Homo sapiens: one gene and its partners. The protein of the gene in region 1 interacts with the protein of each later gene in a pairwise test. Each region holds a gene or a part of one and is shown in the gene's direction. Other genes may lie near its edges.

What was found.
Region 2: the proteins of SESTD1 (region 1) and STMN2 interact in binary tests that used the Homo sapiens proteins (3 or more experiments, as listed by UniProt).
Region 3: the proteins of SESTD1 (region 1) and IQCB1 interact in binary tests that used the Homo sapiens proteins (3 or more experiments, as listed by UniProt).
Region 4: the proteins of SESTD1 (region 1) and RABGEF1 interact in binary tests that used the Homo sapiens proteins (3 or more experiments, as listed by UniProt).

What each region holds. Positions count from the first base shown.
Region 1 is NC_000002.12:179,261,833-179,269,695, reverse strand, and holds the start of SESTD1 (SEC14 domain and spectrin repeat-containing protein 1), read left to right. Parts: upstream 1-4,863; 5' UTR 4,864-5,197; intron 5,198-7,863. UniProt on the Homo sapiens protein: May act as the primary docking protein directing membrane turnover and assembly of the transient receptor potential channels TRPC4 and TRPC5.
Region 2 is NC_000008.11:79,649,099-79,656,124, forward strand, and holds part of STMN2 (stathmin-2), read left to right. Parts: intron 1-5,772; coding exon 5,773-5,964; intron 5,965-7,026. UniProt on the Homo sapiens protein: Regulator of microtubule stability. When phosphorylated by MAPK8, stabilizes microtubules and consequently controls neurite length in cortical neurons.
Region 3 is NC_000003.12:121,825,049-121,832,074, reverse strand, and holds part of IQCB1 (IQ calmodulin-binding motif-containing protein 1), read left to right. Parts: intron 1-3,102; 5' UTR 3,103-3,114; coding exon 3,115-3,214; intron 3,215-3,442; coding exon 3,443-3,605; intron 3,606-5,894; coding exon 5,895-6,024; intron 6,025-7,026. UniProt on the Homo sapiens protein: Involved in ciliogenesis. The function in an early step in cilia formation depends on its association with CEP290/NPHP6.
Region 4 is NC_000007.14:66,743,726-66,750,751, forward strand, and holds part of RABGEF1 (rab5 GDP/GTP exchange factor), read left to right. Parts: intron 1-7,026. UniProt on the Homo sapiens protein: Rab effector protein acting as linker between gamma-adaptin, RAB4A or RAB5A. Involved in endocytic membrane fusion and membrane trafficking of recycling endosomes. Stimulates nucleotide exchange on RAB5A. Can act as a ubiquitin ligase.

The sequences.
Region 1 (7,863 bases):
CATGAGATTTGATGGTTTTATAAATGGTAGGTTTTCCTGCACTCACACACGCTCACTCTTCTCTTGCCTGACACCATGTAAGACGTGGCTGCTTCCCCTTCCCCTGCGATTATAAGTTTCCTGAGACCACCACAGCCATGTGGAACTGTGAGTCAATTAAACCTCCTTTGTTTATAAATTACCCAGTCTCAGGTATTATCTATATAGCAGTGTGAGAATGGACTAATATAGACCCTAAGAGGAGAGGAATGCAAATTAAATTGTGCATTCTGGAAGACAGAATTTAACGGGTGTTCAGAACCCAAGGCATCAGTGAGAGTTTGCAGTCTTTTTTTAAGAGCAGGGATTCTCATCCTGGTGGAATGTCCTAATCATCTCAGGAGTGTTTGAAAATACAGACTTTTGAGGTCCCATCTACAAAGTTTCTGGTCTAGTTGACCGGGGGAAAAGCTCCCAGCTAGATTGTCAATGTCCTGCTCTGTGTATAGTTTGATGTTGTGGCTCCTTATCCTGGTGCCTGCTGCGTGATGACCCGGCCACTATCTGGCTCCCTCAGCTTCTCCCCTACCTTTTTTTCACAGCCTCACTACCTTGGATCCTTCAAGCCTTATCTGTGACTTCACCTTCTTAGCAAGGCCTTCTCTGATAGTAAAAATTGCACCCCAAACCCCAGCACTCTCTAGTCCCCTTCCCTGCATTATTTTTATCCAGCACTTATCACCTAATACACGATTTAATTTACTTATTTTGTGTTTATTGCCTGTCCCACCCACCAGAATGCAAGATTCATGAGGCAGAATTTTTGTGTATTTTGTCCCAACTCTATCCCCAGCACCTAAATCACAGGAGATGCTTAATCAATACTTGTTGAATGAATATATGAATGGATATTTTCTGCTCAGTCATTGTTTGGTAGACATTAGCTTCTGCTTACTGGTGATCTGCCAGGGCCCTTCCTGCCCATGAACACCCTCTGTGAGTCCTTCTGGATTTCAGCTTCCTCAATTGATTGCCTGATTGGATCAGGGTTTTTTTTTTTTTGGACTGATTTTTTTCCCCCCAGGTCATTTTTTGAATGAGTATGACTTGCCTGTGTCTAGGTCAGTGCCCACCCAGGGGCAATCAACAGTGATTCAGGGATTACACAGACAACACAAAAGAGTATATTGCCTGGGGCCACCCTTCAGCAAGGGCTGGAGGAGGGGCAGTTTCTCCAAGCCAACTTTGGTGCAGGATGACTGTGTAGCAAATTACCTAACCGAGCTGAGTTTCAGGAAATTGGCAGTAACAATACCAGTTTGAGACAGACTGAGAATTCTTCAGTGGTTCAAGCAAACAATGTATGGAACACACTCATAGAAGGCATTTTCACTATTAATTTATGATATAAATAAAACAAGATGAGTATGGGAAGTTATCTAATTTTAGATGACATTCAAATGTGGCTTAAAAAAAAAAAGCTTGCTGGTATGGTAGCTCACTCCCGTAGTTCCAGCTACTCGGGAGGCTAAGGTGGGAGAATCGCTTGAGGCCTCGTGTTTGAGACCAGCCTTGTCAATACAGGAAGACCTCATCTCTTAAAAATAAATAAATTAGGCCAGGTGCGGTTGTTCATGCCTGTAATCCTAGCACTTTGAGAGGCTGAGGTGGGTGGATCACAAGGTCAAGAGTTCGATACCAGCCTGGCCAACATGGTGAAACCCCGTCTCTACTAAAAATACAAAAATTAGCTGGGCAAGGTGGCACATGCTTGTAGTCCCAACTAGTAGGGAGGCTGAGGCAGGAGGATGGTTTGAACCTGGGAGGTGGATGTTGCAGTGGGCCAAGATCGTGCTGCTGCACTCCAGTCTGGGCGACACGGTGAGACTCCCTCTAAAATAATTAATAATAATAATAATAATAATTAATAAATCTAAAAGAAGTAGTAGAGGAGAAATTAAGAATTTAGAAACTTGTTGCTTGAGGTGGCTTTGGATTCTTTTTCTCCACCCTTTAATGTTTTTAAAATGTTACTCTCACTTCACATTGATTTCTAGTTGGCAGGGGCTTCTGTACATAACTTCCAAAGTGATATTTAAGAGGAATAAATGCAAAGATCTGCACAGTTTCCAAAAACAAATTGCAAAATACAGGTTGGAGAAGATATGGTTTTATAGCTGTATATATGTTAAAGACTTAAAAAAGATTTGGGGGTAATTTTTGCTTGTTTTTAGTTGGCAATAACATGATATTTATGAACGGTATGGGGTGGTAGAAAAATAATGTGATATCAAACTGAATTTTGAAATATCTTCATTAGGATGCAGAAAATTGTACTCCTCTACTCCTTCCTTTATACTTGGAATATTGTATTCAGTTCTAGGTGCCACATTTTAAGAGACACTGGAGAATGTTTAGATAAATGCGTATGGAGACGAATGAGATGTGAATAAAAAGTGGGTGGAGAAGGCACACATTGTGACTGCTGACTTCAAATGTTTACAAGGCTGCATATGGGGGGGAACCATGCTGTTCTGTATTAAACAATGTTAGTACTAGGTTCAGACTCACTGGACACATTCATACGCATTGCATTCATATTTACAATAATGATTTAAGGTGCTATTATTATCATTTTCTCCTTTTAGAATGGAGCAAACTCATACTTGGAGCAGTTTTGTGCTTTTCTAAGGTCACACAATTAGGAAGTTATAAGCCCAGGATTTGACCAACTTCTTTGGAGTCTAAGTCCAGTGGTGTTTCTACCAATACTGTAGCTACTTACCAAATGTATACAGAGACAGATTTTAGTTGAACATAGAAACTAGCAGGACTGTTTAAAAATGAAAACTGTTGTGAGGTCATGAATGGTTTCCTATCACTTGGAGTTCAAACATATGCTGGATAGCTACATTGCAAGGATCTAGCATATATATATTTACTTTTATAATAAAATATTAAAAACAAATGCTAATCATAGAGCCAAAGAAACTCCAGAAGTAAAGCCTCATGACTATAAGTGATTGAGCTAAGTTCATTCAGTAGTTATTGGAAAACGTAGCATCCAAATTTCATTCTCTGAATTTATAGTTTAATGTTTTTTCCATTATAGCAGTTACCTCTTATCTAACACCTAGGTAATACAATGTGGAACCAGAAGTATGTAAAGAGGAAGGGCAGGGATATTTTGTGAATTATTATAATGGATTGCTTGGCATGCTCTTGTTTTACTAGGATAAGCAAAGAATGTGAATGGTAGTTGGAGAGAGTTTAAAATGATAAGCAGAGAATGCCACATAGTAGAGAAGGGAAAAACAGAATACCACGGAAGGCTAAAAAAGGCTGGGACTGTGGACTTCCCTGTATTTTCTTTTCGTTGAGTAGATGCTCAACATCTATTTGTTGGGATGGAAAATTATTTCAACGCTTCAGCAAACAGTTAAAGAGAACCTTTTTTGTGCTGAGCACTGTGCTATGTTCTGGGGAGCAAAAAAAATGAACTAGACAAAATCCCTGTCCTTTTAAGGAACACACAGTCTAGGAAGAAAAGGCCACCAAGCAAAGCAACAGGAAAAAAGCAAGTATTAAAGATTATCATAGGGAATACTGTAGATAGACGATTTTATGAAAGCAGAGAGAAAAAGAGTATTTAATTCATTGTAAATGTGTGGGGTAAGGATACAGATGTGGTGAAAGGAGATGATGTCAGGGAAGATTCCAAGGAGGAAGGGATGCATTATCTTCATTATCTTGAAGGACAATAGGAGTTCAACTGGTTAAATGAGGGATGGATTTCAGGTGGGGGAAAACTACAAGGGCACAAAGACAAAGTCTGTTGAATTTGTGTGATACGTAGATATATTAGGAGTTGAAGCTGGAGCCAAGGAGGTCAATAGATCAGATTTTAAATGGCTTTGTAAACCATGGTAATGAGTTTGAACCTGATTCAACCAGGTGGAGAGACTTTGAATGATTTTAAAGAGGGACGTTTCATGCTTAGCTCTGTCTTTTTGGAGCATTCTCTCTGGCAGTTATATGGAACTGAAGCAGCAGTGAAGTTAAAGGCTTGACCTAGAGTGGCAAAGAGGTGGAAGTCATGGAGACAGACTGATATTCACAGAATTAAGAGGAAGAATTAATCCACGGGATTTTAAGTCAGAAAACTTTAGTGGAGAGAAATTTGGTTGCTTAGTTGTTGGAATAGGAAGATTTTATCAACGGAATTAGGTGATACTGAAGTGAGTGGCTGAGTGAATAATATGGAAGTCTTGAAATTGGGACCACACAGCTGCTCTGATCTGGTGTGAATTTGCTGATGACTCTTTTGAACTGAATTCAGGAAATGACATACAAATGATTTGCGCAATAAAATGAAAACAAGGACTCTTAAGTCAGTATACTTGGAGAAAAATAACTAGGTTGGTAAAAATGGGGAAGTAGCCATTATCAGGGAGCCCCATTGTGGATTAATTTTGGACTGTCCAGTGGAAAGATCCTCAAAGCAAAACAAATGCCCTGAATCCAGCCCTTCCTCACCGCAACCCTTTCCCTTTCATCTGCCTTCATCCTTCAGCCACACCACCGCTTGGCAGTGAGTACTTGGGAGCAGCTCTTGGAGACTTTGTACTCGAACCTTCGAACTCCAGCATGAGGCCAGAGGAAATAAATGACCTGCCAGGGTGTCAAGTAACGGACCCTCTCTTAAGCCCAGACTTCTGACTCCAGATCTAGGTACCCTTCCACTCTCCAAGACTGCCTCCCGCCTGGGGAGCCTGGGCCTCGGCTAGGGGTGGGGACGGCAGGGTCCGTCCGGAGCGCCAGAGTCCCACTCGCGCCCAGCCCTCAGCCCCAGGCCCGGTTGGACGCCCCGCCCCGCCCCGCCTCCTTCCTCCTTCCCGCGCCGGGCGGGTTGCTGTACCGCCGTCACCCGGGCGCGCGCGGGGTCGCGCGGACGCGGCTCGGGCCGCGGGTGCCGAGAGGTCGCCGGGCCACCCGCACCCCCGCTCCCCGCCTGACGCACGGAGGGGCCGGGACGCGATTTGCCGCGAGTGACTGGAGCCGCAGCCGTCGCCGCTGCTGCCGCCGCCGCCCGGGCCCGCTCCGCCCCCAGCCCGCCTTCCTCCCGCCGCGCCCTCCGCCTCCGCCCGCACCTCGCTAGCGTTCCCCTGTCTTCCCCAACGCCCCGGAGCCGCCGGCCGCTAGCGTCAGCGCCAGCCAGGTGAGTGTGGCCGCCGCTCGGCCCGGGCGGGAGAAGCGCGCAGGCCCCGCGGCCGGGTGGCCGGCTTGGGCCGGTGCAGTCGGCGGCGGCGGCGGTAGCGGGCCCGGCTTTCTTCCCCTGCGCGGGCCGCGGGGCGGAGGGGCTACGCAGTGAAGGAGGGGCGCCCCCGCCCCGCCACCGCCTCTGCTCCCAACGCCCCGACCGCCCCCACCGCCTTGCCGCCACAGACAAAGCGCCGGAGGTGGGAGCCCTGCGGGCCGCCTTTGCCTCCGCGCCGTCTGCCGGGTGCGGCCGCGGCCCGCAGAGACCGGGCCGCGCGCTTTTCCGTTCCTGAGCGCCCTTGTTCATTTCTGGGTGAAAGGGACCCGAATTGTGCAACAGGTTTGGGCGTTAGTCCTTATTTTCCAGCGGGTCTCTTTTGCCAGCGTGCAGGAACCAGATGTGGCTCCCTGCTCTCGGGCGAGTCCCGCGTCCAGCGCCCGCGACTGGCTCCTTTGTGTGACCGGTGACCGGCCCTGTCGGGTGGGTGGAGGACACGGGCTCGAGGCCCCAGGGCTGCGCCGAGGCTCCTGGACGCCTCCTCAGGTCGCGGGGCTTGGCTTCCACGGGCCTGCCAGAGGTTAACATCCCTCCAGCGTTTGGGAGAGTCACAAAGGGGAGGAGAGAGAGGGTTGGCCAGGGTCTGTGGTTGTGTTTATTTTTCTATTTTAGGTAGACTCATATTAGAAAAGAGCCGCAGTCTGACCAGCTCTTGAGGGTACGGGTGGGATTTCACCCTGGGATGCACGGTTTGGACTTGGCTGTTGCTCTGACAGCCCCCGTGGTTTTCTTGGTGCTTTGACATCTTTCTCTTACACACAGACATCGCGGGAGAAGTTGGGAGTGCTGCCGAGGGAGTAACTAGATAGCAGCTGTTTGACAGGTCGTCTCTTACTTCACGTTTTGCTTGTGTCAAGCATGCCCACTATGTATCCCAGCATAGCTTGGCAAACCGTCAAATTTAAATTGCCACTCAAAATCCTAATCCTTATACATACCTACATACACAGACACACATATATCTATATACTTTTTCTGTTTTGGCTGGCTAAATCTTATTAATGTGAGAATTTTTCCTCCCAAGGAAGAATGCATAATAAGGTACAATTTATCTTTGGTTACATACCTTGGTTAAGTTATGCCAATACCTAGCTGGTTTCATTGGTATGCTATTTTAGTTTAACAATACTAATTCCTTTAGCTTTGAGCAGTAAAATACGTCTTTGTTCTAGGACCAGGAAGCTTTTATACGTAATACTTTGCCCCATGACTAAATACGTGAAAAAATTCCCCAAGGACCTAGAAAGCATTTCACAACTCTATAGGCTGTTTTTATGTTCCAAATTCCAGGAAATCGTTTTGTTGAATATTTATTCAAACATTCTGGACTAAATTTAACCTTAAAAATTGGGCCCACTCTAGTTTTTCCCCAGCATTAGAAAAATGAATTGATTGCATTTACCAAACATTTTAGCCCCTGTGAATAAGAATTGAATGGAATAATTGATGTAAGAGATTAGGAGCTAGTGATGGACTAGGAATCTGACAACAGAATGCAGAATGTAGAAAGTTGTAAGTAGAGGTCACAAAGTTGCATCTACTTGGGTTTTAATTCATTGCTAGGCATTTAATGACATTTTAAACAGGTAATCTACTAATGATATATCTGAAAATGAAATGTCCAATAATTAAGAAAACAAAGTATTGCATTTTGACCTTTTTAAAAAATGTATTTTTATAAGGACTTGTTGAAGCTTTTCCACTCTCTAAAAATGAACTTGGTATTAATGACATTTCTTTTGAAAAAATGAAATTGTACCAAACTAATCCGATTTTTAGAAAGTTTCTCTGTTATAGTAGTTTTACTTTACTAAAAATACCATTCATCTGTATAGTAGCTAACTTCAAAGATCTTTTAAAGCTGTTACAAGCAACATGAGCAACCTCTTGAGGAAAGTAGAATATTTACTAATAAAAAGTAGCAAGCAGAGAAGTGAGCCATGATTGGACCACTGCATTCCATCCTGGGTGACAGCCAGACTTTGTCTCAAAAGAAAAAAAAGCAGAGACTTAAATTTTTATAATAGTTTTCTTTGAGATATAATTCATATGCCATAGAATTCACTTTTTTAAAGTATGCAATTCAGTAGTTTTAATATATTCACAAAATTATGCAAATGTCGGCACTAATCCAAGAACGTTATTACCCTAAAAAGAACCTTGTACCTGGTAGCTTTTGTTACTATTCCCCCTTCCCCATATTTGACAACCACTAATTTACTTTATGTCTCTATGGATTTGCCTATTTTGGACATTGCATGTGAATAGAATCATAATATGTGGCCTTTAGTGTCTTTCACTTAACATAATGCTTTCAGGGTTTATTCATATTATACCATGTATCAATATTTCATTCCTTTTATGGCAGAATATTATTTTGTTATATGGCTATGCCACATTTTGTTTATCCAATCTTCAACTGATGGGCATTTGGGTTGTTTCTACTTTTTGGCCATAATAAATAATGTTGTGGATACTCATTTACAAGTTTTTGTATGGTATATATGCTTTCAATTTTCTTGGATGTATACCTAGATGTGTAATTGCTGGGTTATATGGTAATTCTG
Region 2 (7,026 bases), on another chromosome or scaffold:
ATAGACTTACCTTTTCCATTTGTTGGCATCTCACATTGTAGATGGCAATTAAAATGGAATCCAGGGAAAGAGGGGGTGGTTTGTATAGCAATGGATTATGAAACAAAGTACTGGATTATTCACCGCTTGACATTCAGGAAACATTCTGCTCCTTACAGAATATGGCACGTGGGCCACAGAATCTTCCGTGTGCTACCTTCTCGGTGAAGAAGAGCACCCCCAAGTTTCTTTTCCTAGGAGCTAACCACAGTAAACCCATTACACACTTTAGCAGAAGGGCTCATTCTAAAGGTCTTAGGATTTTAATCATTTTAAATTTCCTGTTATGCTTCAGGCTCTTCAACACAAAGTGAATATTGTACTCTTTGGTTTTACATAATTATATTCAATTGTCATATTTCAACAGGACATTATTTGTGACTTTAGATGGGTCAATAATGATTTTCATTGTCAGCAGTAAAGTCAATAATTACAGACACATCACCTACCCTACTTGTGTAAAAGCATTTTTTGGTACTAGGAGATTTAGTGTCTGATCAACGGTCCTGGATAGCAAGTAATATATCCCCCAAATAATGAAAAGTGACAAGAAAATAAATATGTTTACTTCAGAAATAAATGGAAAATTAGTGCTATCTAAAATGTAGTCTTAAGTCTCATCTGTGTACATAAAGTAAAATGAGTTTTATGTACTAGTTACTCAAATTTATCTTCCACTCCATTTGTATAGTAATTAAACTCTTACACTCAGTAATATACAAATTGGTAATTAACCTCTTTGCAAAATGTTAAAGTGTTCCTAAATGTACAATAAGTCTCCTTTCCTGTCTCATTGTTTTTCGCTTCACGTACCTCTCATGTAATTATTTCAATGATTGAGTTCAGTGTGAGGAGGTTTATGCCTAGAAAAGGTGCTCACCAATAACGTGCCTCAGTTCCCATAATAGCAAGATCGAGAAGGTTCTTTAGTCTCCCGGAACGTCACGTTGAACATCTCAGTTCTATATTTTGCCTTGACATTTGCATTATATCAGCTGATCATTGTCTTGCCCTAATTTTCCCTTTTAATATTTTAGTGACCTTCTATGTTAGGTACAGGTTATTTAGAAGTGTTCCTCCAAGGCCAGATACTTTTTCCTTGAACAATTTATTTTTAACAACTTTTAGCGATTTTCTCACTTCACCACCCTCCGTTTCATAAGTCCACGCAATCACAATTCCTTTCTGCTAATCTGCACAGTCAAGATATAAAGTAAGAATACCTATTTGAACATGTAGTGAGAACTTTACTTCTCTGCCAAAAATGAAGGAAAATGCTGCCACTTTTGTATGTCACATGTTTTTTATTCTACAGCCTCACTCACTTCATGTCATGTTTTAGTGCAGTTTTCTGGACTAACTGCTTATTTTCTCATTGATTAAACTGCCTATTTGCTCATTGGAATTAGAGCCAATTTTTTTCCTTGAGGGTCTGACTAGAAGATTAAACTATGTTCATGTGAGAATCAATTTCTACCTAAGAAATGAGTTAGAGGAGTTATGGGCAGCAATATCTATCTGGATGCTACACTGTGAAAAAGGAAGCGAGGTTATGCCTTTCTACCCCAATGGGGTAGCAGAGACCTCAGGAACTGAGGTAGATGCCCCCCTGGTTATTAGCGCCCCTGAATAATTTGTTCAAAAATTGACTGCTGGACAGGTGTCGTGTTGCACGCCTGTAGTCCCAGCTGTGCAGGAGGCTGAGGCAAGAGGATCTCTTGAGCCCAGGAATTTGAGGCTATAGTAAACTAAGGTCACACCACTATACTCCAGCCTGAGCAACAAAGCAAGACCCTGTCTCTAAATTTAAAAAAAAATATTGAATGCTTATGAATAGAGACTAATATAGGAAGTCATAAGTATTTCCTTGGGATAGAATGCTTTCCACCATAATTGACTTGACATCCTGTATTTTTGTATGTGTGGACTTAAGTTTTAAATATTTGAAACACAGACAATTATTAAGTCCTGCAAATGTGTGAGTTAATAGTGGATATAACATTCCCTTCCAGGGTGTAAGAAAAGGTACCACAGAAGTGAGCAGCCCTGAAGCACAGCCTGGCCTAGTTTGGCAGGTCTCTGTGAGTTAGCAGCAGACTCACGTGACCACACTCTGTACTGCCTTCTGTTTCTGTTTCACCCCATTAATTGTGCTAAAGAAATGCACTTGACACCTATGCTGTGTAATCTCATTTAGCCCCAATAGCAACAAAAGTACTAACCCCATTAAATTGAGTCATTTCAAACTGAGCCAAATGTTGCACTCCAGTAAATGGAGTAGGCATTGGTTATAATGGGAATTCTCCATTATTCATAATGGAAACCACAGGAGTTTGTTCATGCAGATCAAATGTGTCCCACCAAGGCAAGAAGTATGGAAAAGTGGTGTTGCTGTATTACCTTGTAATTTCAAAGCCTTCCCGTCTGAATCTTATTTCCCTGCTGTTTCCTCTTGACTTTGGTTCTTTCACAAAGGAAAATTAAGAACACAAATATAAACATTAAGTTAAAACACAACTGAACAAAGTGCCAAACTTAATTGGAGCATCTGAAAATGAAACATTAGGCAGTTGCAGTGGCCTCTTGATAATAATTCACAGTAACTCTCTGTAAGCTGATCCTGTCTGAAGAGCAGCAGGCACAAGGCCCCTGGCCATGAAGTCCATCTCAAAGGGCCAGGCTCAGCAAAGCAGGATGCAAACCCAGGCTTTCCAAATACCAGGTTGGGGCTCATGTCACTGTGCCACAGGAGCTTCTGTAGAAAGGCTACTTGAAAAAAGTGGCCATTAAAAATCCAGGTGGATCCTATCTAGGGCAGTGTTGGAAACACTGATCTATGGGAGGAGGAGCAGGAAGGAATTGTTTAACCACTGAGCAGAAATGTTACATTGCTACCTGCCTTTAGCAGCTGTGGCTGATGGGTACCAGTTGCTAAGAAGAGCATTACCTAACAGTGTATTAAGATAGAAAAATGATTTTAAAGCACGGCACTTAGAGAATGTTGAAGTTTTACTTTGCTTTATTTTGATTTGTTTGGTTTGACTTTGTCTCCTGGAGCATCCTCCATGGATTTCTGTTCATTACAAGAGAAACCTAGGGCTCTAACCCAATTCCTAATTCTTGGACACATTGCACCCTTGTTTTGTGATAATCCAGCCTTCTTCCTTGAGAAGGTTTGCTGGACTGGAGGTTACATGTATTGAATTTTCTAAAATGAAGGTGCAAAGCTGTCTCCTCTTATTTCTTTGTGGTGCTCACTTCACTGTGAGATTTCCTATCAATACAGCCCAAGTCAGTGGGCATGCATGAGGTGGAGATGAGGGAGTTAGGAAGGACTTGGACTCTCATCAACCATCAGGATCCCTGAATCCACTAACTGTTCATAATCAAAGAAGTTTGAACAAATACTTCACACACATGAAATTGCCAAAATTTTGCATTTGAGTTGTTATACCAGTAAGTCCAGTTGCCATCATCTCCTTGTCACAAGTGTCTTAAATTTTGCTTTTGATAATAATGATTACCACTCATTCAGTACTAACTTACTTGATATTAGACACTGCATTAAATACCTTGCAAACATTATTTTGTTTGATCCTGACAACCATATGAGATAGGTACTATTCTTATCCATTACCAAAAAAATTAATTTCATGAAGACTTTTCCCAGAGAGAGAAACTTTAAATATTTACACACACACCTCTCTCCCTGTAACAATTCCGTAGTCCTGATAACAGCAAATAAGCAAAGTCTGTGTAGGATGCTTTACCAACAGTCCCACCTAGAGGCAGGAGAGTGAACCAGCTAGAAAATATTTTATTCATATTTCTTCCAGAAAGGCTCCATTGGAGTTTGAACTCAATTTATGTTATAATTTTCTTATTATTTTTGTATTGGTTTTCCTGAAACCAATACAAAGTAAGAAAGCATTGGTTCCACTAAAAATGTCCTAAAACCAGCCAAGCACAGTGGCTCACACCTATAATCCCAGTACTTTGGGAGGCCGAGGCGGGTGGATCACTTAAGCCAGGAGTTCAAGACTAGCCTGGCCAACATGACGAAACCCCATCTCTACTAAAAATACAAAAATTAGCAGGGTGTGGTAGCACACACCTGTAATCTCAGCTACTCAGGAAGCTGAGACATGAGAATCGCTTGAACCTCAGAGGCAGAGATTACAGTGAGCAGAGATCACGCCACTGTACTTCTGCCTGGGTGACAGAGCGAGACTCTATCTAAAAAAAAATAAACACATAAATAGTAAAATGTCCTGAAACCATTATGGGGTTAAAGCAAGAGGCAGGGCTGGTTCCCAGGATTTTCTGTCTAATCTCCAGTGAGCCACAGACCTATTCCTGATCAACTTGAGAATAAACACATCAGTAAAGATGTGTAAGGCTGTCTGACTTTCCCATTTCTGTAGAATTTTATTTGAAGAGAAGTTTCTCCTTTCTCCAGGCCCCATATTGTTTATACAAAAAGACCTTTCCAGTAAATGTCCACAACCACTACCATCAACTAAAATGTTTTCCCACTAATGCTTTCAATGGTAATCAGTATTTAACAGGGCACTTAGGATTATTTTTTGATCAACCATTGTTTAGATATTCCCACTTATAATTACTCCTGTGAAGGATTGCCTCGGGGCATCAGCTGATCCTGAGAAATTATCCAGAAGCCATGAGTGTGTAATAATTTAGTCTTAAACCTAAATAGGTCAGTATTGGGTGGGACTTTTCTCAGCTGCATAATGGGGAGAATAAAAAGAATATGGAAAGAAGTTACGTAACACATCCTGGGTCACAAACAGAGGTAAGACTTGAACACAGGCCTGACATCAAAGCCCATGCCAGTATGACTTACAAAAGGTAGACTGGACTACCTGCATTTGAGTCACTAGTGATGCTTATCACTGGGCCTCACCAAAGAACCTTGGAATCAGAATCTTTGGAGGTAGATGCCAGGCACCTGCATTGTTATCAAGTGCTCCAGTGATTACCATTCACTGTACAGAGCCAAACAGACTCCTGATGCTGGAAGAAAATTACAGTGCTCAAAGTGCAGGGCAGGGTGTACATCTGGATCTAAATCACTGAGCAACCACAGGGTTTCAAGAGAGGGTCAAAACAAGGACTTTCTGCTCTCTGTGGCCAAGGGGACACTAAGTTTGCACTGTTCTCAGATCTCCAAAGAGACTTTGGTGTATGGGGGATAGGGAGGGGGGAAGGGGGTGTGAAATAAAAGGAGAAAGTGAATTTGATTATTTGATTGATGAAAATTGAAAAGCTTATTGTAGGGCCTAGCCTACAGTTGATGAAAAAACAATGGATCAGGAAGAAGATCAGAACTTGTCTCAGTCCTCAACTGTTTTCCTCAGGCTTTGGTTGAATATTGCCATCCTGTAATTCATTATAGCATTTTCTGTTGCATAAACGCTTAGCAACAAAGCCTTTTTTTAAAAAAATTTGTAACTCCTCAATGAGGATTAAATGCTTCTTCTTCTAAGACAGTCCGAAATATACTCACAGCTGAAAATTCAGCTAACCGCATTTCCCAACTAGCCACATTCTATAGAAAACTCTAAGCCATGCAGATGAGTACAGACTTGACAATAGTGCTCAAGGCTGGGAGTACTATTCATCTGAAAAGAATGCTCCCTCCAATTGGTGGGCCGTTATTCTGCTAGGTTTGTGTTTGGATAATTATAAGATGGCTATGTTTTTCTTCCCCAGTCTCAGGAGGCCCAGGTGCTGAAACAATTGGCAGAGAAGAGGGAACACGAGCGAGAAGTCCTTCAGAAGGCTTTGGAGGAGAACAACAACTTCAGCAAGATGGCGGAGGAAAAGCTGATCCTGAAAATGGAACAAATTAAGGAAAACCGTGAGGCTAATCTAGCTGCTATTATTGAACGTCTGCAGGAAAAGGTAATCTCAGCAGAGTCCTGAGCAGATGGATATATTCATATGCAGCACAGCTGGGTGAACTTCCATATGCCTGAGCACAGAGACGAAGTCAAAATTTGCTGCAGGTGTGAGGACAACTAACTCCCATGGGCAGGGTCTCACAGTGTAGCATTGAGTTAGCAGGAGGTGCAACATGGTAGAGAAATGGGAATCCATCATGAAAGCTGGAATTTTGTCAAATTTTCCCATGGTGAGTGGATTCAGGGAGGCTGATTCATGCTTTTGAAATGTGTAAGACTTCTATACAAGCCTCACGAGGCAATCTGTAGGAAAAATGTTACACTGGAAATATTAATGTCTATATATTATATTGATATAAGTATAAATAACATTTGATTTAATATTTGTTTAATATATGACATTAAATATATATTTAATTAAAATATTAAATTAGAAAAATATATTTGCCAGAAAAGGCCAGGGTATTTATGAACACTGGTAAGCCCATTCTAGGGTATAATAGCATCACATGGGACCATAGCAAAGATTAGCTCATAGGGGATGTTTCATCCAGTTCTGGTATCCTGGTGCCCTTCTCTTCAACAACCTAAACATATATTCATTCCCATGAGTCAGGAGGAGCTGTGCTGGAGTTCTTCTGAAAAATGCTGTCTTTCACTTTTGTACTCTCTATGCTGTCTCCCACCTATCCCCTCAAAAAACCTTTCCTTTGAAAATATACAGTATAGCTGTGAGTAGTTTAGCTGTGTCCGTTTCCAGAAATTGGAATAAGCATTGAGAAATGGGATGTTTGAGAAAGACGCCTCAATCCTTTTCTGAGCAGTCAGTCACCCTTCCCGCCAGTAGCAAGTGCCTTTGTGTGATAGGCATTGGAGATGCAGAGCAAAACAGGAGTGTGCCTGTCATCAGAGCCCTGAGAGTTTAATTAGATGAGCCTCCTGTTTTCTATTTCTCAGAGTTTCATGTCTTCTGTTAGAGATGGCCCTTCTCATCTAAGGTTCAAAAAACCTTATCCTGAAGTTCTGATGATTCTGTTTTCATTCTCAGTCTCTGACTGCAAAT
Region 3 (7,026 bases), on another chromosome or scaffold:
TACCAATTTTCATCTAACAGATTGGCAAAAATGTAAAGGATCATGTGTATATTCATTGCAGTGTTGCTTGTAATAGCATACAGCTTGAGTGACCTCCAGTAGAGGTGATGTTTAAATATATTTTGCTGCATTCTTAAAAGGAAATGTAGCATAATGCAGCCATTTGGAGAGAATGAGATAACTATATGCACTCTCTTTGAAAGTTTTGTGACTACTATGTGCCGGGAGTTGCACTGGGCTTTCTTTAAGGTATTTTCAGCAAACCTGTCTTTTAATGATTTATATTGTACCTAATAAGAGATATATGAATGGAAAAACAGTTTTTGCTCTCACATCATGACAATCAACACAAAAGACTTCTGTGACCAAATGTGTGGAGTTTTCTTCCACCAACAAGCAAGCAATCAATTCTGCAGCGGACACCAGCTGGGTATCATCTAATTCAATTCTGACACTGTCTACTTGGAGATAGGGTCAGATCCCTTAGGTTTAGGGCTTAGTCCTGCAAGAGGGACCCCCATTTCTGATGCCAATCCAAGCCCTAAGTTGTTTTACCTGTGCTTCTGACTGACCAGCTACACATGAGGAATCCTATTAATACACACCTTGGGGTGTATTAATTTGCTAGAGGAGCTAACAAAACTGAGGGAAACATGTTTTCCAGTTTATTATAAAGATATTACAGAGACCCTGGGCAACATGGAGAAACCCTGTCTCTACTAAAAATACAAAAAATTAGCCGAGCGTCATGGCTTGCAAGTGTAGTCCCAGCTACTTGGGAGGCTGAGGTGGGAGAATCACCTGAACCTGAGAAGTCTAGGCTGCAGTGAGCCATAATTGTACCATTGTCCTCCAGCCTGGGCAACAGGAGTGAGATCCTGTCTCCAAAAAAAAATACTAGGATACAAATGAAGAGATGCATACTGTGAAGTATGGGAAGGGGCACAGAGCTTCCATGTCCTCCCTGCCTGTGATATCCAGGAAATTCCTCCAGGAACTTCCACATGTTCAGCTATCCAGTAGCTCTTTGTACCCCATCCTCTTGAGCCTTTTATGGAGATTTCAATGGATAGGCATGACTGAAGCATGGACAATCATTTTGGAAATGTGATTGGACAAAAAAGATATGATCTGATACTAACAGACTGAGTGGGGAAACCCAGCAAGGCCTGTCTGCTCAGATTCTTCTTGGCTTCTCTGTTCAGCATTCCTTCCAGGATATAGGGCAAGACCCATTCTGAAACAGGGGTCTTATGACCTACAGCTAGACAAGATAGGTCAGAGAAAGGCAGGGATGATTAGAGTTCTGCTTTGGAGAGAAGGAGCAGGTGAAAGGAGGAGAGGAGGAAGTCAGAAATAGATTCTGTTTTCTGAGGCCTAAAGCACCCTAACATAACAAGACTGTAACAAAGGCTATGGGAGTTATGAGCCAGAAACTGTGGACAAAAACATATATATGTATATGTATATATGTATGTATGGAAATGATCACACGCTCTATCTACTTCATAGCCCTGTTGTGAGGATTACACAAGACAGTGTATAGTATATTAACATAGTGCTTAGCTTATATTAAACAGTTGATACATGTTAGCTTTACTATAAATAAGGAAATACGCTTTTATTATATAAGGATATCTTTGAGCTTCAAATGCTTTAAAACTTTTTTTTTTTAGAGACAGGGTCTTGCTTTGTTGACCAGGCTAGTCTTGAACACCAATTCTCAAGCGATTCTTCAGCCTTAAACTTTTTTTACATAGAGAAAGTTTTAGCAACAAATTAGGATGTGGACCTTGTTTTTTAATGTTAGGAGAATTGATTTTATTCAATATACTATTTACTTATTTATTAATTATTATTATTATTATTTTGAGACAGAGTCTAGCTCTGTCACTCAGGCTGGAGTGCAGTGATGTGATCTCAGGTCACTCAACCTCCACCTCCTAGGTTCAAGCTATTCTGCCTCAGCCTCCTGAGTAACTGGGATTACAGGCACGCGCCACCATGCCCAGCTGATTTTTTGTATTCTTAGTAGAAATGGGGTTTCACCATGTTGGCCAGGCTGGTCTTGAACTCCTGACCGCAAGTGATTCACCCACCTTGGCCTCCCAAAGTGCTGGGATTATAGGTGTGAGCCACTGCCCCTGGCCTTATTCACTATACTATTTAGAAGCAATCTTTGATTATCTTATATTTATGTAACATTTCTGAGCATTAGTGTGTTGAAGGTCAGTGCTTCACTAGGAGGGCTCACAGGACTCAGAATATAGTGTACTTACAGCTATGATTTATTACAGTGAAGGGAAATAAAGCAAAATCAGCAAAGGGAAAAAGCATATTGGGGGAAATCAGGTACAAACTTCTGAGTTCTCTCCCAGTGGAGTTACGTAGGATATGCTTAATTCCTCCAGCAACCAGCTATGACAACATGTTTGAAGTGTTGTCTACCAAGGAAGCTCAACTAGACACTCAGTGATCAGAATTTTTATTGGAGGATGGCCACATAGGCACCCTCTGTATAGGTACTCTCGACTGGCATGTACCAGAATTCTAAGACTCCTGGAAGGAAGGCGGGTATTCAGCATGAACCACATTGTTTTTCATAAACAGTTTTAGGCACAGGGAGCCACTCTTACCAGAGAATGGCAGAAACCCTCCTGAAATCTAAGTTCTAGATGCCAGTCAAAGGCCAACCTTGTAAGCACACCTTTGAAAGTATAGTAGTCTTAGGCCTGTCATGTTAGCTCTTTTTTGCAGTTCTTCTTGTGTGATTAAAGGAAGTTAATTCCTATCCTAGAATTATTGTGCAGATTAGAGAGAGAATGTGAAGCTCCTATCACAGTTCCTGACTCTTAGTGAGTGCACAATAAACAATACCTGCTATAGCTGTTACATGTGAGGTATAGGAATCTTGAGCTCTTTTACACTGGTTAGAAAAACCAGTTTTCTATAAGGAAGAAATGAAAAAATCTACATTCTGCCTCTCAAACAAGGCAAGAAAAGCTGTTTTTATTTATATTGAAATTATATTTCAAACATTATTTAGGTAGTGAACATTTCCTGGCTTTTTGACCTTTATTCTCTGATTCTGTTAAAATATAGGTAATAAGAGAAATGAAGCCAACAGGTACAGACCCAAGGATCTTATCTATAGCTGCTGAAGTTGCAAAAAGCCCTGAGCAGAATGTCCCTGTTATACTGTTGAAGTTAAAAGGTAAGAAAATCTTTTTGTGATTAGATAGCATTTTAAGTGAAAAATGGTTCCATCGTTGGTACAATTTTAACATTTCTTTTAAATTTGTTCAGAGAGGTCTTAACACTATAATAGAACAGTAATTTTTCCTTCTAATATATTTTTAGTGATTATTCAACATATAAAAATACAAATAGCTCCTGGATGTATTAAGCAAAAATAAATATATCTTATTTCCTTTTGCCTTAGAAATAATAAACATCACACCTTTAGGAAGCTCAGAGTTGAAGAAAATCAAACAAGATATATATTGTTATGATCTCATTCAATATTGCCTCTTGGTCCTCAGTCAAGATTATTCTCGAATCCAGGGTGGTTGGACTACAATTTCCCAGCTTACACAGATATTAAGGTAAAATAAAGCAGTAAGTCAGCTGTTCTTGAGGGATGTAGTAGTTGATTCTGATTTTCAACATTTGCTTTTTATTTATCTGCCTAACAAGCATTGGCAACCTCCTGTTGTAGGTTTTGGTTGTACTTTTCCTTCATATTATATGTTATTATTCATAATTTTACTTCAGATTATTTGACTGTCTAAAATTTTCCTCCACAAGCTTAATGAAGATGGTGATCATTTTTTTTCTCACCACTGAATTCCAAGTGCCTAATATACTTTTTATTGATTAAGGAATTTTTAAAGAAGTGAAGAAATTAAGGCACTGGCTCTGTACCTGAGAAACTTAAAATAGAGATTGGGTGACAGTCATGTAAGTATATGATACAAAGCAGAATGAAATCAGTGCTAAAATGAAAGTATGCAAGCAAGTACTATAGGAGAACTGATAAAGAAACATTTTATTTCACTATATCAATGTAGCTATCAACTGTGTATTTCATTAAGCAACCCAAATACTGTCAATAAAATTTAGAAGTAGAATTTACTGATCTACTGCCATGCTAGAAATTAATAGAAGAGAAATAAACATTTTTTAAAGGAGGTAGTAAAATAAACCAGATGTTCTTAGTGCCTAAGCTACTTCCTGATTAATAAGTGAAAGTGTGTATTTACTAACTGGATCCTAGCCTTCTTTTTTTGTTTTTCCTAAATAAGCCATTTGAATTTAATAAGCTATTCCCACTGAAAGGGTTTGTCTTGGATGCTAGATTTCTAAGCTGCTTAATCCTACTGTGTTACTTGGTAAAGGCCAAATTTAAAGCACACAGTTACAAAGAACAGTTGAAAAATATATGTGATATTCTTTTTCATACTTTAATTTTCAAGATTGATTTTCTTAAGTAAATAAAGCCTTATGTTTTTGTTTTGATTCGATATGCTAGTTTATGATGATATTGATTAAGCCAGGCTCTCGGGTGGAATTCAAGACTTAAGAAATTCCCATGTTTCTGAATGCACAAATAAACATAATTTCATTTGTTAATCTTCTCAATCAAAAAAGATACTCTTAAGTAATTAACTTTAGGAACCAAAGAGAAAAGAAAAGCTGATACATGTGAGCATTAGCCCATTAACTTTAGGAACCCAGGTGCAAATAAACAACAACAACAACAAAAAGTGATACATGTAAATATTATCCACTTAGGTTTTTTTTTAACTTTTATTTTAGGTTCAGGGGTACATGTGGAGGTTTGTTTTATAGGTAAATTGCATACTCAATGTTTGTTCTCACTTATAAGTGAGAATATGCAGTGTTTGGCTTTCTGTTCTTGTGTTAGTTCACTTAGGTTAATGGCCTTCAGCTCCATCCATGTTGCTGCAAAGGACATGATCTTGTTCTTTTTTATGGCTGCATAGTATTCCATGGTGTATATGTACCACCCCAAAGAAATATACCATTTTCTTTATCCAGTCTGCCATTGATTACTTAGATTTTTAACATGCTCAATACATAGTTGTTATTGCTTATTAGTGTCCATACATTTTGTTGAAAAGACTCAAACAGCAGTTTTTGTTCATTAGAGTACACACATAGAGACCATTCTTGGGTTTGAGGCTCTTTTGAATGTTAGTTTACAGAAAAACCTTTTATTATTGGGACTTCTGACTTATGTACAGGAAATGACTTTTATGTACAATTTTAAGAGGACCTTTTTCTCTAAGTGACTTTCTCTCCTCTAATGTATATTGTAAAGTGTTCCTACTAGAGTTAGGTTTTGCCGTTTGTCCTTCTGATATAAGGAATATGCAAATGAGTATTTTGCAAAAAGTAGATCTATTGGAAGGTAAAATTGGTATGAAATTAGTGTTTGGTTTCCTTATGTATCCCTTGCAAACAAATCCTACTTGGGCATTTTTCAGCTATTAGGTGTCTAAAATGTATTAGTTAACACAAATGCTTTTCATAAATTAAACTCTCAAGGTATCCTATAGCTTTGAGAATGATTATAGCCAATTCACTGAAAACTTAGCTTCTCTTTATTGTGAGCCAAGTGTCTTTTATTTGCTGAATGAGCTGATATGTAGGTTTTTAGGATACATAAATCCCAGACCTAAGTACAAGCATGGTCCATACCACTGTTTACTTTTCTAGAAAGTTGTTAGACTAATTTTTCAACAAAAATTCTTTATTGTCTTGGTAACAAAAGAAGCATACTAAAAATTCTCAATAAGGCACAGTGTCTCTAGAAGCTTGAGCATTCAACATAAACTTCTAATTAACACGAACTTGTGCTCTTATTTCAGCCATTGCTGTGTGGGCTTGGAGCCAGGAGAAGATGCAGAGGAATTTTACAATGAATTACTTCCATCAGCTGCAGAAAATTTTCTAGTTTTGGGGAGACAATTACAAACATGTTTTATCAATGCAGCTAAGGTATGTGTTTATTTAGTCTTTTGTAGCTAAATCAGTTTAATTCTTAAGAAGCTGTTCTGTTATTTTTTAAATGTGCAATATTTGGCTGAAAGTACAATTAAAGTAGTGAATTTAAACATTTTCAAAGTTACAACCTTCCAAAAATCATCTCTATGTTTGAAAAATTTTTAATGCTGACTGAAGCTTGCCATTTGATTTTTTGAAGGATCTGCCTTGCTACTTTACTTGTTGGGCAGCACCCATAGACAATTATTTCCATAACATCTTTCTAAACATACTTTTTACTTAAATTAACAGTAGAGGAAAGTATGTTCTCTAGGGCTAGGGCTTTTCTAAGTAGCTCCAGTAGTGAAGAATAAAGGTGAACTTCCTATTTGATCTCTCATATCTTCTCCAGTCAAAATATTCAACCCAAACATAGGGGTCTTTTCAAGTATTTCTTGGTTGCATTATGCTAGATGCTATACATGTGCTCTTTTTTTGACCCAGGGATTTAGAAGTGTGTTGCTTAATTTCCAAATATTTGAAGATCTACTAGATACTTTATTGTTATCAATTTCTAATTTAATTATGTTTTGGTCAGATAACATTCTCTATATCATTTCAATCCTTTGGAATTTTTTCAGACTTGTTTTATGGCCCTCCGCATATGTTTTATCTTTGTGAATGTTCATTAAAAGAAACTTTTGTGGGCTGGGCGCAGTGGCTCACACCTGTAATCCCAGCAGTTTGGGAGGCCGAGGCGGGCGGATCACCTGAGGTTGGGAGTTTGAGACCAGCCTGACCAACATGGAGAAACCCTGTCTCTACTAAAAATGCAAAATTAGCCGGGCATGGTGGCACATGCCTATAATCCCAGCTACTTGGGAGGCTGAGGCAGGAGGATCACTTGAACCCAGGAGGCAGAGGTTGCAGTGAGCCAAGATAGTGCCATTGCTCTCCAGCCTGGGCAACAAGAGCAAAACTCCATCTGAAAAAAAAAAAAAAAAGAAAAGAAAAAGA
Region 4 (7,026 bases), on another chromosome or scaffold:
CTCCTGACCTCGTGATCCGCCCTCCTCGGCATTCCAAAGTGCTGGGATTACAGGTGTGAGCCACCACACTTGGGCTAAATTTTTTTGTAGAGATGGAATCCTTGTATGTTTCCCAGGGTGCTCTCCAACCCCTGGCCTCAAGTGATTCTCTAGCCTCGGCCTCCCAAAGTGTTGGGATTACAAACATGAGCCACTGCACCCGGCCCTAAAATGGAATTTTATGTAACTCTTACACACAGGCTGCTATGTAGCTGATAAGGATAAATGTTTTCAGTGTAGTGCTTGATTATTTGCTTTTTTCTTTTCTTTTCTTTTCTTTTTTTTTTTTTTAAGACGGAGTCTTGATCTGTGACTGGGCTGGAGTGCAGTGGCATGATCTTGGCCACTGCAACCTCTGCCTCCTGGATTCAAGCGATTTGTGTGCCTCAGCCTTCTGAGTAGCTGGGACTGACCATAGATAGGCGCGCGCCACCACGCCCAGCTAATTACTGCTATCTTGTATTTTAATTTTTTCTGCTTATTAGATGTTTGAAATGGTGGCTCACGCCTGTAATCCTCGCACTTTGGGAGGCCAAAGTGGGAGGATTGCTTGAGGTCAGGGGTTGGAGACCAGCCTGGGCAAAATAGCAAGACTGCATCTCTACAAAAAAAAAAAAAAGATAGCCGGGCGCAGTGGCTCACGCCTGTAATCCCAGTACTTTGGGAGGCTGAGGCAGGCGGATCACGAGGTCAGGAGATCAAGACCATCCTGGCTAACACGGTGAAACCCTGTCTCTACTAAAAATACAAAAAATTAGCTGGGCATGGTGGCAGGCGCCTGTAGTCCCAGCTACTCGGGAGGCTGAGGCAGGAGAATGGCGTGAACCTGGGAGGTGGAACTTGCAGTGAGCCGAGATGGCGCCACTGCACTCCAGCCTGGGCGACAGAGCCAGACTCCGTCTCAAAAAAAAAAAAAAAAAAAAGATGCTTGACGTGAATGTATACTCATTTCCTAGTTGTTTCTTTCTATAAGGATGTCTGACCTGGCTAATTTGTAAACAGGAATTCTGCATTCATTTCTCTCTTTGCTTTCTCAACCCCAATTGAGCACACAAGTGTTTAATGAGTACTTAACTGATTTGATAAGAATAACTCATTGATTTCTTTGATTTTTTGTTGCTGGTTTTCAGTGAAAAAAATGTTATCAGCCGCACACGGTGGCTCACGCCTGTAATCCCAGCACTTTGGGAAGCTGAGGCGGGTGGATCATGAGGTCACGAGATCCAGACCATCCTGGCTAACATGGTAAAACCCCATCTCTAATAAAAATACAAAAAATTAGCCGGGCATGGTTGCAGGCGCCTGTAGTCTCAGTTACTCAGGAGGCTGAGGCAGGAGAATGGCGTGAACCCGGGAGGCGGAGCTTGCAGTGAGCCGAGATTGTGCCACTGCACTCCAGCCTGAGCGACAGAGCGAGACTCCATCTCAAAAAAAAAAAAAATGATATCAGTACTTACTCATTGTGATGTCTACATATAGAACTAAAATTCTGTTTACTTATGTGAGTCTTTGGCTAGAGACATAGAATTTCAGTCTTGACTGTGTGAGCTTAATTTCTGGCATGTGGGTTTTTATTGGCTGCAGAGGAAACATCTCTAGCAGAGATGACCTATCCCTCAAATGTAGGAAATACCTGTGTAAACCTAACACCTGTGACTCAGAATAGAAATGGTACCAAGTGAGTGGCTTCTTAGCCCATCAGTAAAGTTATCACACCATAGGCTGGGTGCGGTGGCTCACACCTGTAATCCCAACACTTTGGGAGGCTGAGGTGGGCAGATCACTTAAGGCCAGGAGTTTGAGACCAGCCTGGATCAAGATGGCAAAACTCCGTCTCTACTAAAATGCAAAAAACTTAGCCAGGCATGGTGATGTGCGCCTGTGATCTCAGCTACTCGGGAGTCTGAGGCACAAGAATCTCTTGATCCCGGGAGGCGGAAATTGCAATGAGCCGAGATTGTGCCACTGCACTCCAGCTTGGGCAACAGAGTGAGACTCTATCTCAAAAAAAAAAAAAAAAAAGTGATCACACTAAAACCAAGAGTTTCAGGCTGGTGCAGTGGCTCATGCCTATAATACCAGTGCTTTGGGAGGCCAAAGTGGGAGAATCGCTTGAGCCTAGGAGTTCCAGGCTGCAGTGAGCTGTGATCAAGCCACTGCACTACAGCCTGAGTGACAGAGTGATACCCTGTCTCTATAAAAAGAAGTTTCATAGTACAGGCCAAACATCTTGAAAATCTTATTAAATGTACACTTCTTTCATAGAGCACTGTAGAAACATCATGTGTGTTGTTTCACATGGCTGAAGTGAGTTTAAATGATCTGGACTATTGTTACAATATGTAAACATGTGAAATAACAGTTATCCCACTTAATATTATTTAACTTATGTTTATCTCTTTGATGTTTGGATAAAGCTCCTAAAATGCTTTAGGAAAACATTATACTTTTATGGTGCTGTTTTGAAGTTTCCTGTGAAATTCCTGTTTTCAATGAAGTTACTGTCAGTGGGATAGGAAGTGTGATTTTTTTTTTTTACTTTTCTTTTTTTCTTTTTGAGACGGAGTCTTGCTCTGTTGCCCAGGCTGGAGTGCAGTGGCGCGATCTTGGCTCACTGCAACCTCTGCTTCCTGGGTTCAAGGATTCTTCTGCCTCAGCCTCCCGAGTAGTTAACCACCATACCCAGCTAATTTTTTTTGTATTTTTAGTAGAGACGGGGTTTCACCATATTGGCCAGGCTGATCTCGAACTCCTGACCTCGTGATCCACCCGCCTCGGCCTCCCAAAGTGCTGCGATTACAGGCGTGAGCCACCGTGCCCGGCAGGAAGTGCAATTTTTATTTATAATATAACCTTTTTTTTTTTTTTTTTTTTTTGAGAACAGAGTCTTGCTCTGTCACCCAGGCTGGAGTGTGGTGGCACGATCTCTACTCACTGCAACTTCCACCTCCCCGGTTCAAGCGATTCTTGTGCCTCAGCCACCTGAGTAGCTGGGAATATGGGCTCCTGCCACCACGTCCGGCTAATTTTTTTTTTTGCTGGAGTGAGACTGAGTTTCAGCCTTGTTGCCCAGGCTGGAGTGCAATAGTGCGATCTTGGCTTACTACAACCTCTGCCTCCTGGGTTCAAGTGATTCTCCTGCCTCAGCTTCCCAAGTAGCTGGTGTTAACAGGCACGCGCCACCATGCTGAGCTAATTTTTTTATTTTTAGTAGAGACGGGGTTTCACCATGTTGGCCAGGCTGGTCTCGAATTTCTGACCTCAGGTGATCCACCTGCCTTGGCCTCCCAAAGTGCTGGGATTACAGGTGTGAGCTACCGTGCCCGGCCCTAGTGGAACATTTTAATTTGTTTCTGGTAGCATAGCTCTCTTGGCAATGGTCATTAAGAGGGCCAAATACCATTATTATGATCAATTAATTAAATGTGGTTAAAAGTCAGAAGTTAGAATAAGTATGTGTTCATGAATGCGTAAAATATTACACACTGAGAGAGTATTAAGCTTTTTAATTTTCCCCCAGTAACAGTGAGCAGATTGCTGAAATCTCTGAAGCAGGAATGTAACAAGAGTTTTGAGGGCTCTAAATTCTCTGCTGTTTCACCCTAAGGAATGGTTTGGCAGCATCCTCTATGCTAGGCACAGAACAACTCAGGAGGAATTGTACAAAGACCTTATGAACCACATTTGAAGCTAGTCTGTTCAGTTCCCATTCAAAATAAATACACAACTGTAATTGAATTTATGGTGATTTGGTCTGTATGCTAAAATTAAAAATCGCTTTTGGGGGATTTTCACATAGGGGTATATTTATAATTTTCTGTGTGCTTTGCAGTTAAAAATACATAGTGAAAGTTTTATTTTTGTAGTTCCTCTGTTGTACAGAGGAAATTTAAATTCTTAAAATTAGAATTTTCTAATTTTAAGCACTTTCATTTTTCCTTTAGAAGGTACTTTGGAGCACATAAAAGAAAATGCCATTAGAAATTGAACATAGAAAATGTTTATTAATCGAAGAAAATGTTTTCTTATTGTGCTATAATTTTTTTCAGTGGAACATATCATTTACTTATTCCATTATTCCACATCTTGTTCCAGAAAGGGTTTGTAATGACTTACAAAGATACGTGCGACATACTGTTGGTAACATAACAGATAAGTGGGTGAGGAATGCAGGACTGAGGGAAAATTAAGATGGAAACAGGAATGAGCTGTGTACACAGAGCACTTGGACTGAAGTCTTAAGTGCAGAGGGCCACAAATTTGGCTTTGCTTTTGAGTAGCCAATTAAGAGAGAAATATAATCAGTTACATGGGTCAGTGACCATACGACAAAAGAGATCATTTCTGCTTTGGATTCCCAAAGACTTTCCAGCATGCGTTTCAAAGGGCTGGGTGTCGAGTTTTACTTTGTGTGTTAGTAAAACTCCTTATTGGCTTTTTGTGTAAGACGGTGACATAACATCAAAACATTCCGTAAAAGCATTTCTCTTGCCTGCAAAATAATGTGATCCGAGTACTTAGATCTCTAGGCTGATTTAAGGATCTGTTTTAGATTATCTAGATGAGTAGGTGGATTGCACATTCTTCACCTACCTTCCATACTTTCTCAGTGGATCTTTTGTAATGAATTTATCAGCAGTGGGGTTTGAGTTTGTGCTTCCTCACAAGTTCCTTGAATGCATCTGTTTTCTGTTGTTGGTGAATCACGGAACCATATGTTTTAACAGGCATGGTTTATCGTGGGGGTATCACGATGGAACAGTCTGACAAGGGCACATATTTGTTTGTTTGTTTTTTGAGGAAAATCACTTTATTCTAATTAACTCAACAAAGAATAAAATCATAACGGCTAGTTCAAGGGTGCCACACAAACATCTACCCAGCCATCTTAATGAAATTCTACACAGTAAGAATTTCCTTTTCCATTGCAGTCCTGAAGCAGGGACGCTATGAGAGAGGAGAGGTTTACCTGATGATTACACTTTATACCTTCACTATCAATTGTATTTTTGTGCTAAATCACTTGGTTATGAGAGCTGATTTTCCATTTCTCCAATTCGAACTTTCTGATTAGACCAATCTGTTTGCAAGTCTGCACTGTTTCAGCACCTTATTGAAACCCTCACAGAGTTTTCTGTCACCCTGGTTCTGGGCACTCTCCAAAAACTGTTTTATGTCATAAGAGCAAGGCCGCTGCTGCTTTGCTGGCTGGGTTCCCTGAGGCTCTTGGTAGGTGATATCAGGCCTTCAGGCTCACCGTGACTTCCTCCACTGAAGCCCTGGTGGTGGCATGACCCAGTGTATGTCTGACAGGGGCACATATTTGAATGAAAGCCACCTCACCTCCATACAGAGATGGGCTGAGGGAATACCAAATATGAAGATGGGAGCAGATCCAGATCTACTCGTCTCAGATGAAATGTCCAGTAAGTTGTATTGCCTGTATTTTGCTCCAGCTGAACAGTTGCACTTTCAAGTAATAATAGTTCAAATTTATCAAATGCTAGCAGGAGCCATGCATTGTGTTAATGGAGAGAGACCATCCTTATTCACTCTTACTCAGTAAACAGTGGGTGAAACTGCCCTTGCCTAAATATAGTTATGTAATGCTGTGTTTCCTTAATTGTATATCCATAAAGCTTTTGACATTGTTTTCTAAATGTGTTCCTCAAAAAGGAGTTGGGCTAGTGACCAAAGTTTTGAATAGAATATTGTAAGAAAGCAAATACAAAGTGTAAAAACAAAAAACAGAACTTTGCGAGGTGTTGTTCACCTGTAGTCCCAACTACTTGGGAGGCTGAGGCAGGAGGATTGCCGGAGGTCAGGTATTAGAGGCTGCAGTGCACTATGATTGTGTCTGTAAATAGCCACTACACTCTAGCCTGGGCAACAAAGCAAGACTCCATCTCTAAAAACAAACAAACAGGCCAGGCACGGTGGCTCACACCTGTAATCTCAGCACTTTGGGAGGCCAAGGCGGGCGGATCACGAGGTCAGGAGATAGAGACCATCCTGGCTAACACAGTTAAACCCCGTCTCTACTAAAAATATTTTAAAAAATTAGCTGGGTGTGATGGTGGGCGCCTGTAGTCCCAGCTACTCGGGAGGCTGAAGCAGGAGAATCGCTGGAACCTGGGAGGCGGAGCTTGCAGTGAGCCGAGATCGCACCACTGCACTCCAGCGTGGGCGACAGAGCGAGACTCCATCTCAAAAACAAACAAACAAAACTACAGAATAATGAAATAGAATGTCCAAAATTTATCATAACTGGTGTCTCACGAGATAATACGTTTGGGTCCTGTTTAGCAAGTTGGATTATATTTTTATTTGTGTAAATTTATTGGCCGTTGCAGTTGGGGTTGTATTGAGAATGTAGATTTTGTCTGATGAGAGTGTAGATTTTATTTGTAGTGAGTGCATGTGGATTTTTATTTGTCTAGGGTTTTAAAAGTTGTATAGTCATGAATGGACACTTTTTAATACCATCTATGAGAAATTCAATGGCAAAGTGTTTTCATACCCATATGCTAACTGCTGATGCTTTTTATAAAACATTGTTAAGGTGTTACTTGCCCCAGGAAATACAATGTTTTATGACAGAGACAGTACTGAAATTCAGTATTTAAGTTCTTTAAATACCAGCTATGTTGAGTAGATATTACTTTCTCCCAAGAGCCTATTTTTGGTTTATGACATATTAGGGAACAAATTGCAGACACAGTTTTTTCATTACCTGTAAGAGCACTTATAGGATGTAAGCTATTTCCTTAAAGAGGAATTTTTGCCTTTTTAATACTTCTGTCTAGTAACTCAATGCATTAAAAGATACATATTTTTCTAGTGCTATAAATATATTGGTACATTTAAATATAATATACACACATATAATGGTGCTTGAGAAATAAGTTGAGATTATTTTAAGGTTAAGGTTCTTAGATTCTGACAGAAAAACTGATCAGCCAGTTGGACTACAGGTCCAACCAGTTC